Regions from separate parts of the Homo sapiens genome. Here region 2 is linked to region 1. The links come from fine-mapping of genetic effects on gene expression. A gene starts in region 1. The other region holds a variant in brackets. All regions are shown on one strand. Distances are from middle to middle.

What was found. PIP is the estimated chance that this variant, and not a neighbour inherited with it, causes the effect.
Region 2: its variant is fine-mapped to the expression of AOX1 in fibroblasts (GTEx, PIP above 0.99).

The regions. Positions count from the first base shown.
Region 1 is chr2:200,584,038-200,589,419 of GRCh38, reverse strand. It overlaps AOX1 (aldehyde oxidase 1), which reads right to left and starts at 3,406. Exons shown (of 35, transcript NM_001159.4): 1 at 3,267-3,406. The coding sequence starts at 3,311. SGO2 (shugoshin 2) reads right to left here. Exons shown (of 9, transcript NM_152524.6): 9 at 5,324-5,382.
Region 2 is chr2:200,622,330-200,627,711 of GRCh38, reverse strand. AOX1 (aldehyde oxidase 1) reads right to left here. Exons shown (of 35, transcript NM_001159.4): 19 at 3,729-3,851; 20 at 263-359. Among named protein-coding and RNA genes, the nearest start is that of AOX1, 39 kb to the right of the region's middle. The variant T/G (reference allele first, on the strand shown) is at 2,970.

The DNA of each region.
Region 1 (5,382 bases):
TGATTTCCACACCTCATTGCCTCATGAAATGACATGCTTCATTTCCTGAGTTGAGGTTGTTATGTGGCATCTATGGCAGAATTTATTCATGGGCTCTTCCTCCCTTAAACTCCATGTTAAATGGGTCATCTGTTCTTCTGGGGGCCTTGGTAGAGTGAATAAGATTTCAGAAATCTCTCTGCAACTAGGTCCCTGGCCAACGTGCGCTGTCCTTGCCTCCAGATGTCGTTACCTTCTGCCTGAGGACAACTTTTGGTGACCTGAGAAAATTTAGCAAAAAGCAGAATAGAAGCCAATCATGTCACCTATTTTCTCCTAAGTGGCTTCACTTCTAAGCTTCTTTTTCAAAGGTGAGTTTTTAATTCCAGAGATTGTGTTTGACTTCAAAAGCCCTCTTCTAGGGTGGATTTTCTCTCACACTCTTCTCAACAATCCCTTACTCTCTGGAACGAAAAAGTTTATGCTAGGCTGGGCACAGTGGCTCAAGCCTGTAATCCCAGCACTTTGGGAGGCCGAGTCAGGGAGATCACCTGGGGTCAGGAGTTTGAGACCAGCTTGGCCAACATAGTGAAACCCCATCTCTACTAAAAATACAAAAATTAGCGTGGTGGTGGGTGCTTGCAGTTTCATAGTCCCAGCTACTCAGGAGGCAACAGAGTGAGACTCGATCTCAAAAAAAAAAAAAAAAAAAAAGCTTATTCTAGTTCTTTCCATGTAAGTAATCAGGCTTGTTTATTAAGTACCGAAGCACACACCTAACAGAATTTAGAAGGGAGGAGAAGGAAAGGGAAAGATTAACACAATTTCTTCTAATGGGTAATTGCAAAAACAGAATCAATATCTCCAGATTATACTTTACAAATAACCACAGGACATTTGGCCCATAGACAAAGTGAGTCCGTAGATAAGAACTAGCTTATCTAATTTTAAAAATCAATAGAGCACAAACTTGTTGGCCATTATGTTAAAAATACCAATATTTGTTTGGAAGTGGGGGAAGGAGAAGCGAGGAGATGTTAGACTCACAATCCCTGTTTCTTCATTTAACCCAAACCCTTACCATCACCTATAAAGCCCTAGTAATCAGGCCACTGCCCATGTTGCCAGGCCCACCAACCTACCTCCTTAAGCACACAGAAATCCTCCTACCTCAGGACCTTTGCACCTGCCATTCCCACTGCCTGGATGCTGTCTCCCCAGATGTTTGCATGGCTTGCTCCTCACTGCATCCCAGTCACTGCTCAAATGCCACCCTTTCAGACAGGCCAAAACATCCATCCCCTCTAAGTATCCTGCATACTCTCTGTCCCCACGCTGTGCTTTATTTTTTATATTAGCACTTCTCACTTCCTGACATTACACATTTCCACGTATTTATATGCTTGCTATCTCCCCAGCACAATGTAAGCTCCATGCACGCAAGGACTTGTTATTTCTGTGCTCTGCTGTATCTCATAAGCCTGGAACACTGACTGGCATACGGTAGGCCCTTAACAAATAAGTGGATTGAATGCTCATGATCACTCTTTATGAAGTAAGTGGTATGATCCCCTTTTAACAGAGAAACTGGGCCTCTGAGAGGTTAGGTTTTCTCAATCAGAATTAGAATTGGAATTGAAGACTTGTTTGTCTAAACAACAAAGCCAGTGTTGTGTTTACTATACCATTCTATTATGCAAAAGAAGAAAAAAATGACATAATGTCAATCATCTCACCCCATTGTCATATTTCACCCTCACAGCAGTCCTGTGAAGGGGTCCTAATGACCCTTACAGATCAGGAAAAACTAGCTCATCTTATCCAATGTAGAACCCAGGCAGCAGGGGCAGACAAAGTTTTTGAGGGGCCTAATGTACAATTTGGGGGATCCTCTTTAAGAAACATAATACAAAACCACAAATGAAATTAGGCTCAGGGTCTTAGAACAGGCCTCACAACTAGGGCCTGGTGCTTCACACTGGTTAGCTTCCAGGGGAGGCAGCTGGTGCCCGTCGGGAAAAGTGTTGTGGCTGCCCTTAGCCAGAAGCAGTGGTCACAGGTGGCTCTGAATGAACCGGCACCAACACGAGCACCAGGGAAATCAGGTGCCACTGCTCTTGCTTGGTTGTTAGCTCTGTTTTTGTTGTTTTTAAGAAATAGGATCTCACTCTTTTGTCCAAGCTGGAGTGCAGTGGTGTGATCACAGCTCACTGTAACCTTGAACTCCTAGACTCAAGCAATCCTCCTTCACCCTCCCCAGTAGCTGGGCTGCAGGCACGCACCACCACACCGGTTTTTTTTTGTTGTTGTTGTTTTGTTTTGTTTGGTTTTTTTTTTGTAGAGACAAGGTTTCGCCATGTTGCCCAGGCTAAACTCGAACTCCTGGGCTCAAGCAATCCTCCTGCCTCGGTCTCCCAAAGTGCAGATTACAGGCGTGAGCCACAGCTCTCAAGGGAGCTCCTTAACCTTCCTGCCTCAGTTTCCTCCTTCAGAGTAATGTCAATGAAACTGGAACATTAAGAGTGAGCAGAGTTGATGCTCACATTAAGGGGGGTGTTTTAAAGGATGCCCAGGGGGCTTTGCTTCTCCCAAACATCGGACACTGCCTGGAACTGTCCCTCGGGTTGCGCAGAGCGAGCCCAGCTTCTGAGGCGACAGAGCCCGCACCCAGCAGTGGAACCCGTGAGGACCTTGGAGCCCCCAGAGCCTGACTTGGGTTCAGCTCTGCCAGGAACTAGCTGTGACTTTGGAAAGTAACGATTTCTTCATCTGAGAAACGATGGGGGTGGTTTGAATGTGTTCGTCTCTACGGTCTTGTCCCGAATCTAAGTTGCTCTCTGCGCTTCCAAACGCACCCCGCGAGCTGAGGCTCAGCCATTTCTGTAGGCTGCTCTCAGTGTACTGGGGACGTTCCCGTTATCGGCTGGGATTGAGGGAACGAAGATCTGGGAGTGCTGACCCCTGATGGGCAAGAATACTTTTTATCTTACTGTTTAGGGAGGGCGTGTGGTTGGAAATCAGCTTGTGAGCCTTGGAAGGAGAGGAAAGGGGAACATAAGGAAGGTGGGGGCCCAAAGATCCAGGACAGTCCCTGAAAACGCAGCCTTTAGCTGCCCCGGAGGCAGGGGTGGGAATGCGAAGGCAAAGCCGCTGTTACGGGAGAAAGCCAGTCCGTGCCTGAGTGCCTTAAACGGCGGGCACGAAAGGATGGGACGAACGGCAGGGGCTCCTCTCTGCCCCGGCCCTGGCCGCAGGTCTGGGGGCAGAGGAAGCCCGCGGGCGCTCACCTTGCGGCCGTTCACGTAGAAGAGCAGCTCGGACGCCCGGTCCATTGTGGTGTCCGCGCTGGTTCGAGGGCCCGGAGCGGGAGGCGGAGGTTCTGGGAAGTAGCGGGCACCTGGGACCCGGCGGCACCGACCCGCCGAGTGGGGCGGGGCTTGCTGGAGCCTAAAGTCCAACCCATCCACCCCGACGGAGAAAGCCTTGATTAAGATCCAACGTTCCTGAGCTCTTTGCCAGGAACTCTTCCCGGGACACCAGCACGTGTGTGGGCGTCACTGGCGCCCTCTATGTGGGCGGAAATCATCCGGCGAAGATGAAGACGACCCCTTCATCTCCTCGCCAGTGGCGCTTAGCGTCTGTGTCACACCCTCTTGCGTCTTAGCAAACATTGTAAGTCCTGGGACATTGCTTTTGATGGTCTTATGTTACTGCATATTTTAGGTGGTGTTCCAGCTGGATTTAAGTCTGGGAACATTAGTAACTCCCCTCCAACCAGGCCTGCTGTAGTCCTGGACTCTTAAGTGTAAACAATCATATTTATTCCAACTCTGCAAGAGCGGATCTTAGGGAAAACAAATAGGTTTACAACTTGATCTTTTAGAAATATAAGGTTGGTGCAAAAGTAATTGCGGTTTTTACCATCACTTCCAATGGCAACAACTGCAATTAATTTTGCACCAACCTAATAATTACTGGTTTTAAAATGAAGTGCTATCTTGATATAAACTTAAAAATTTTATCACTATTTACAGTTTATCCAGTAACTAACCACAAAGTTTATCTGGTAAATAAGAACAGAGATGTAAAACATCTTGGAAAACTTAAAAAAAAAAACTTGGAAAATACAGCAAAGCATAAAAATAAAGAACACCTGTAAGCCCACAACTTAGAACTTACCACCGTTCACTTTTTTAGTCTATCCTTACTTTTTGAAACATGTACTTTTAACACCTTTAAAAACTTAAGTGGGACAAACTAGTTATTTTCCAGGCTTTTTTCACTTGCCATACCTTAGAACATTTTCCCATGTTATTTCATTTATGTAAACACAAAAATTTTATTGTGAAATTTTCCAAACTTTGCACATAAAAGTGAAGAGTGCAATTGGCATCTACCTGCCCTTCACTGAGCTTTAACAATGGTCAACGTTTTGGCATACTCCATTTTTTGTAGTATTTAAAAGCCAATCCTGGACATATTTTAGCCCTAAATACTTCAAAAACACACATACACATCCTTTTAGTCAGCCGCAACACCATTTCACGTGTCTAAAAAATGTCTTTTACACTTGACTTCTTTGAATCAAACAAGAGCTGTGCAATGTATTTGCATGTGGTCTCATCAGTCTCTTTTGATCTAAAACAGACTTTTTAACACTATTAACACATTGAAAAAGAAACCAGGTCAGTTGTTCTATTGAAATGAACCATTTTTTGAATGTGGCTAATTGCTTCTCCCTGGTATTGTTTTTCTACTCTACTTATTTCCTATGCACTAAATATTAGATCTAAAGCTTTGATTAAATTCAGGTTCAATTTTTTGGGGGGGAGAGGGCAAGAACACTTCATAGGTGGTACCATATAATTAATATTGCAGCACAGCAGGAAGCATATGGTGTCTGGTTGTTTCATTCGTAATGATGCTAACATTGATCAGTGGGTTCAGAGGGCTATTCCTTTGTAATGAATTTCTCCATCAACATTTCACCTAATTGTTTTACATCCATTGTTGAGCATTGCCTGAGCGGTAGTTTTAATAGGGGTTTGCAATTTTTCTAATTCTAGCATTTCTTCTTCATTCATCAACTGGGATTCTTTGAATAAAACTATCCATCCTTCACTAGAGCTATTGACTAAACCCCTCCAGCACTCTGTACCCCCACTGCAGTCTCTCAAAGTGTGGTACTAGGACAATCCTCGGACGGACTCACCTGAAGCATCTGATTAAGATGCAGATTTCTGGGCCCACCGCGTTAGTGGTCAGATATTGTCTAAAAAAGTTTTCCATCTAGGTGGAATAGAGTTTGAGTAGTCATTTGAATTCAATAAACTGTGTATTGATCTCAGATATGAACAGGATTTATTACTACTTATTACTGGAAGAGTAAGTGATCTTTAAAAC
Region 2 (5,382 bases), 38 kb before region 1:
TCTCTAACAACTGGAGCCTTGATGAGGGAAGGGGGGTCAGGGAAGAGGGGCAGGGTCTTGCCTCCTCTTTTGCCTCCCCATTGGCTCTTGGCCTACCCCAGAGACGGAGGGAAACACATTTGTGAATGAGGTGCCTGTTCTGCCTGTTCCTGAGGAGCAACACCCCCCTAGGCTGCCCGATGATTTCCAGAAGACAAAGGAAGCCTTAAACTGACATGCTTAGAAGACTTCCAGGGTTGTTTACTCTTCCATTACTTTTTACCTTCAAGAATTTGATCAACCACTTTAAATGCTTCGTCAACATTTCCATATTCCAGTTTCCTTTCTGGCTTGAAGGAGGAGTTGTGTTGTATACTTTCCTAGAAAGAGAACAGAGGAATGAGGCAGCTTGGGCAAGAGACCCTGCCCTAGGGCAGCAGACACACCCCACTGCACATCCTCTGAGCAGGGGTTGTTTCTCCCTTCACCTTGTGGTTCCGTGCACTTTCACCATGACCCTGGTGAGCCAAGCTAAGAATCCAACTGCAGAGAGACTCCCCAGTGAGGAAATGTAAATGTGCCTACTGAGTCTGAAGAAATAATATGCACAGAAAAAAACTGGCATCTAAGTGATCCCAGAATGAAACTAGTATTTTCCAGGCAGGTTATTGTCTGCACACCACAATCCATTTCATGTAGCCAAGGCCATACAGCACAGGGCTTCAGAGCCTGGGCTCTAGACCCAGTCAGCATTGTGCACACATTTTTCCCACTTACCAGCTTTGACTGTGGGCCTATCACTTCACCTCTCTTATCATTGTCTGTAAAATGGAAGTAACAGGTGTGCATATAGCTCCAATAGGATCGTGGTTGGTGAAGATAAAATGAAATAAGACGTGAAGAGCTTATATTGCATATAGTAAACACTCAATAATTGCTAGTTGAAAAGACTCTAGTGATTGGGATCATGGTGGCTCTGCCTGCCAGCCCCATATTCCTTCTTTGTGGGGATGAGCATTTCATTTGCACAGGGCAGTAGAGCACCTGGGACCTCCAGCTCTGGAAGTAAGATTTCAGACAAGCCCTGTCTGGGAGCTGGGTGTACAAATCCATTTATACACTAGCTCCTATTGGCTCTCCCTGGGTGCCCAGTAAAAGGGTACAGTGGTGCACAAAACCAGAGATGTAGTTACAATAACATAGGTTGGTTTTTAGCTATCCCTGAGAATTTATCTTGCAGTAATCCATGTGTCCACTGGCAAATGTGGTGTGCCAGCTCCTGCTGGCATTATCTACTGTGGGTTATTGTCCATCCATGAAATTCCATTCTGTTGGTAGTTGGGGATTCTCTTATCTCTGTTTCCTTCTGGCCACCAGTAGGTGTCTAGACAACACCCCTTAGAGGGATGGGCTATTGTGATTCTGCCATTTCCCCCATTCAAAAACTGGGTTGGTTTGTTTATAGCACCGGTGGGGCCCAGGTTCTTTGACAGAGTGTTTGTTGATTGTTTTTGTTACTGACTAGCTATGTAACCTTGGGTAACCCTGCCTTTTAGTTTCCCCATCAGAATGGGGATAAAAATAGTTTTTGCCTCATAGGATTGTGGTGAGCATTTAGTAAGTTAATGTGTGAAACTGACCTAGAACCATGTTGACCACACAGTGAGCTCTGTATAGGTCCTAGCTATGCTCATGTTGTTGTTGATGATTATTATTCAGGACAGATTCCGGTAGGGAACACATTTTTTTCCATTATGGTCATCAGCCTTACCCCTTGATTCAAGAGTTTTGATCGTTGCCCCATTCAATCTACTAAAAACTCGAAAAGCATGTGCCAGATTAAATCTTTGTGATAGTGACAGAGATATATTTGTTTTTGTTCTATTTTGATTGATAACACACTTCCTATTGGAATCTGTTCATGTGCTTTTCTTATTAATCTAAGATTAAAGAGATTCCAGGTTGAAAAAAAAGCTAGGTTTTATAAATCCTATTTTTAAAAGTTTCATCTTTTTCAACTTCACTGGCTGCTTGCTCTTTGAATAACTTTGAGCCAATTTTCTGAATTTTTCTTAGTCAGGAAAGTGATAAAAGAACTGTAATGTATAGGGAGAGGGGCATATTTCCCTGCTCTAAACTTTGATTAAATTTGCTCTGATCCAGTTGATGATCTTTAGACTTTGAGAGCTTAATCTCTGAACACAATGTGAGGCAACTCTTTTCCACAAAGCCAGAGCTTGTATCTGATGCTGGGATTCTCTGGCAGACAATCACGAGTCTGCTGGTTGAAGTGGTGAGGGTGGGGGGAGTGGCATCTATTATATTTGCTTATTGGGGCTTTTATTTGGCTGGAAGGTAGGGGGAGTGGAGAGTAGATATTTAGCCCCTGATATTGGGCAAAGATTTATAAACAAAATATTGATGAAGTGTTACGTAAATAATTTCTAATAAGTAATTCTAACTCTCCAGCAAACTTCAGGGGACAGAATATATGAAGCAAGAGCAGCATGCAACATGTAAATGAAAAGGGCCTGAGAAGGGAACAGAGTGTTTGAATTTGAAACTGGCCAGGAAAATTTGGGAGGCCTAATCACACTTCGACTCCAATTAGACTTCTACGTTTTTGTCTATTTGACATGATTTTATTTTTATTTTAAAATGTAAGAAAAATTCCCAGAGACAAACTCCATGTTCCTAAGCATCAAGCAGCATGGCAAGAAGCACCCCCAACACCCAGTTCTCCTGGAGACACTGATCGTGCCCAGGTTGTTTCCTCAATTCTGCCTCAGGCCATGCCGGTCACCCAGAGAACAACATGTTCATTATGCTGTGAAGCTAATATTGTGTCCCAGAGCACATGCGGCCTGTATGGACTGAGTCTCATCTATTTACACTGCCTCCCCAGTGTTCATTCTTTCATCATCCAGGAAATTATAAGAACCAATGGAATGCACACAAGAGAACATCCTATCATTTCATGGAGATGAGTC[T/G]TATAGCCTTTATAAATTTTCAACTCCTTTCTAAAAATCAGGATAGAAAATGCAATTCTCCAGTTTAAGTTGCCAAAATACCTGTAGGCATCATACGACTTATCTCTTGAAAAATCTAAAAATCGTGTCTCTGACACTCACTTCATGGAACATCCTGTTGGTCCTCACCATGTGCCTGGGTGAAGGTGGGTAAAAAGTCATAGAGTGGATCCACTTTCCTGGACATCACTGTTTCCCATCTAGCATCCCCTCCCCTTTCCCTTTCCAAACAGGGCTCAGATTTGTTTCAGTTTCCTACACTCCCCTACATAGCCCACTTACTTCAGAGAAACCTGACCCCAACTCCTACCCCTAGAAGTAACCAACAGCTCCTCCATTCCTCTGCCAGTCATTAATTTGGAGATGGATATGTGACCTAAGTGGCTTAATTAGGCTGGATCTCAGGATTTGTGCTTAGAATGCTGGGGCAATAGGGTTCCTCTTACTCCTTGAACATGAACAAGGAAGTCCAGGTTGTCCTGGCGGCCATCTGTGTGACCACAGGAATTGAGCTTGTATTGTGGGCAGCAGAGAAGAGTGGCAAAAAGAAGCCATGTCCTTGGGGAAATTGTTAATACTGAGACTGGTTAGAGGTTAATAAAGTCCGTGTGCTTTGGAGGCCACTTTGAGCCACATTTTCCTGTTACAGTAGCCAAAAGCATTTTAACTGATATTTGTTCTGGCTCCCAACTGGCACCACCATTCCACAGAACTCATTACCTCAATTGTTAGTATCAGCGGCTCCAAGTCTTGATAGACAATCTTCACTCGCTTAGCAGCTCGCTTTGCCTGAACCTCAGAATCGGCAAGCACAGCACAGACAAGCTGACCCACACAGAACACCTACGACACAGAAAGACCTTTGTTGTCAAGGAGGGCAGGCATCAGGTCCTCTCTTTTATTCATTTTCTTCCTCCCTCCTAGTACTCGATTACAGTAGGGCTAGGGCTAGATACACACAGGTGTGACCCCTCCACATCTGTCCATGACTATAACCACAGCTGGCCTCCTGATCCGAGGCACTGGGGGAAGTTTAGATCCTTGTGCTGTATCAGAGGAGCAGGAGTGATGCTGTCTTGAGGACAGCAGGCTCAGGCTCCAGGCCAAGCCTATGAGGCTGTGTGAGGGCCAGCCTGTCCCATGGCTTGATGTTTGGCTGTCACACGACAATCAGAGCTGTTCTGAGAGAGGCAGCCTCTGCCTGCACGGACAGGGAGGACCAGGAAGTCACAGATCATCTCAACCAGAGAGAAAAAGGGGATGACCTGGGAAGGGGAGTCCCCTGTGATAACAGAACCCTGATGGTGAGCACATCTCTCCTCACAAACTGTCTTTTCATGAAAAGATGTCCTAGCCAAGACGTGACCAAGCAGACAGCATCCCCTTCCTGGGGGGGTTGACAGCTAGGATTATTCGCCTGCAGGTGGGGCAGCTAGGCTCAGGAGTTCACACAGGGACCACAGCAGAAATTTAGATGGGGAAAAGAAACCTTAAGACTTGAGAAAGGTAAAAACAGTCTGGACTGGAAGAAGTCACCATCATTGCTGAGTTCTCTCTCCTACTTTATGCTGTGATTCACAATTTCAATGTAATCACTCATTTTAAAAATTGACTTTGAACTATTATGTCTTTTCCACAATGAACATAAAGTAGTTTTATCATCGAAAAAAAGGCATTAAAAACATAAAATCTAGCATGAACACAAAAAAAGTGTGTTTGTTTGGGGTAGGGGCAGTGAAGGAGAGAAAAATGAAACAAGAATGGTAACGTGTTGATAACTGTTGAAGCTGGGTGATGGATCTATGGGGTTCATTGTATAATACTTTCCCATTTTTGTGTATGCTTACAATTTCTACAATGAAAAGACTTTTAAAAGCCATTAAGTGCCATAAATGAATGTTTTAAAAAGCATTAAACCAACAAAGGCAATCATTCACAATGGCACTCCAAAGACTCCTGATTTTGCTCCTGTGACCTGGCACATAGATGTGGCCCCTGAGATGCTTATGATCTTCATAAGCACACCTCAAAGAGCAGGTACTATCATGCAGCCAAGATCAGTTTCACTTGTTTAGTAAACATTTATGCAAAGGGCTTAAATTCTCACCGTCTCTGCCAGTGCTACACAGCCCTGCTTTGGGGGAGTTTCAACCTTGAGTTCAAACTCTCAGTCATCAAGCTTTCATTTCTACAGATAATATCTTCAAGGGAGTATCTTCCAAGGAGAGCCAGAGGAAGGGACTGTTTCAAATTATGAAGCCCTTTTGGGTAAACACTGAACTGAGCAGTCCGAATTATGCAGAAAACCTGTTGACTGCTGTTCTTGCTGTAGCCAAAGTTTTAATCATTTGTAATTTTCACAAGGCAACAATGT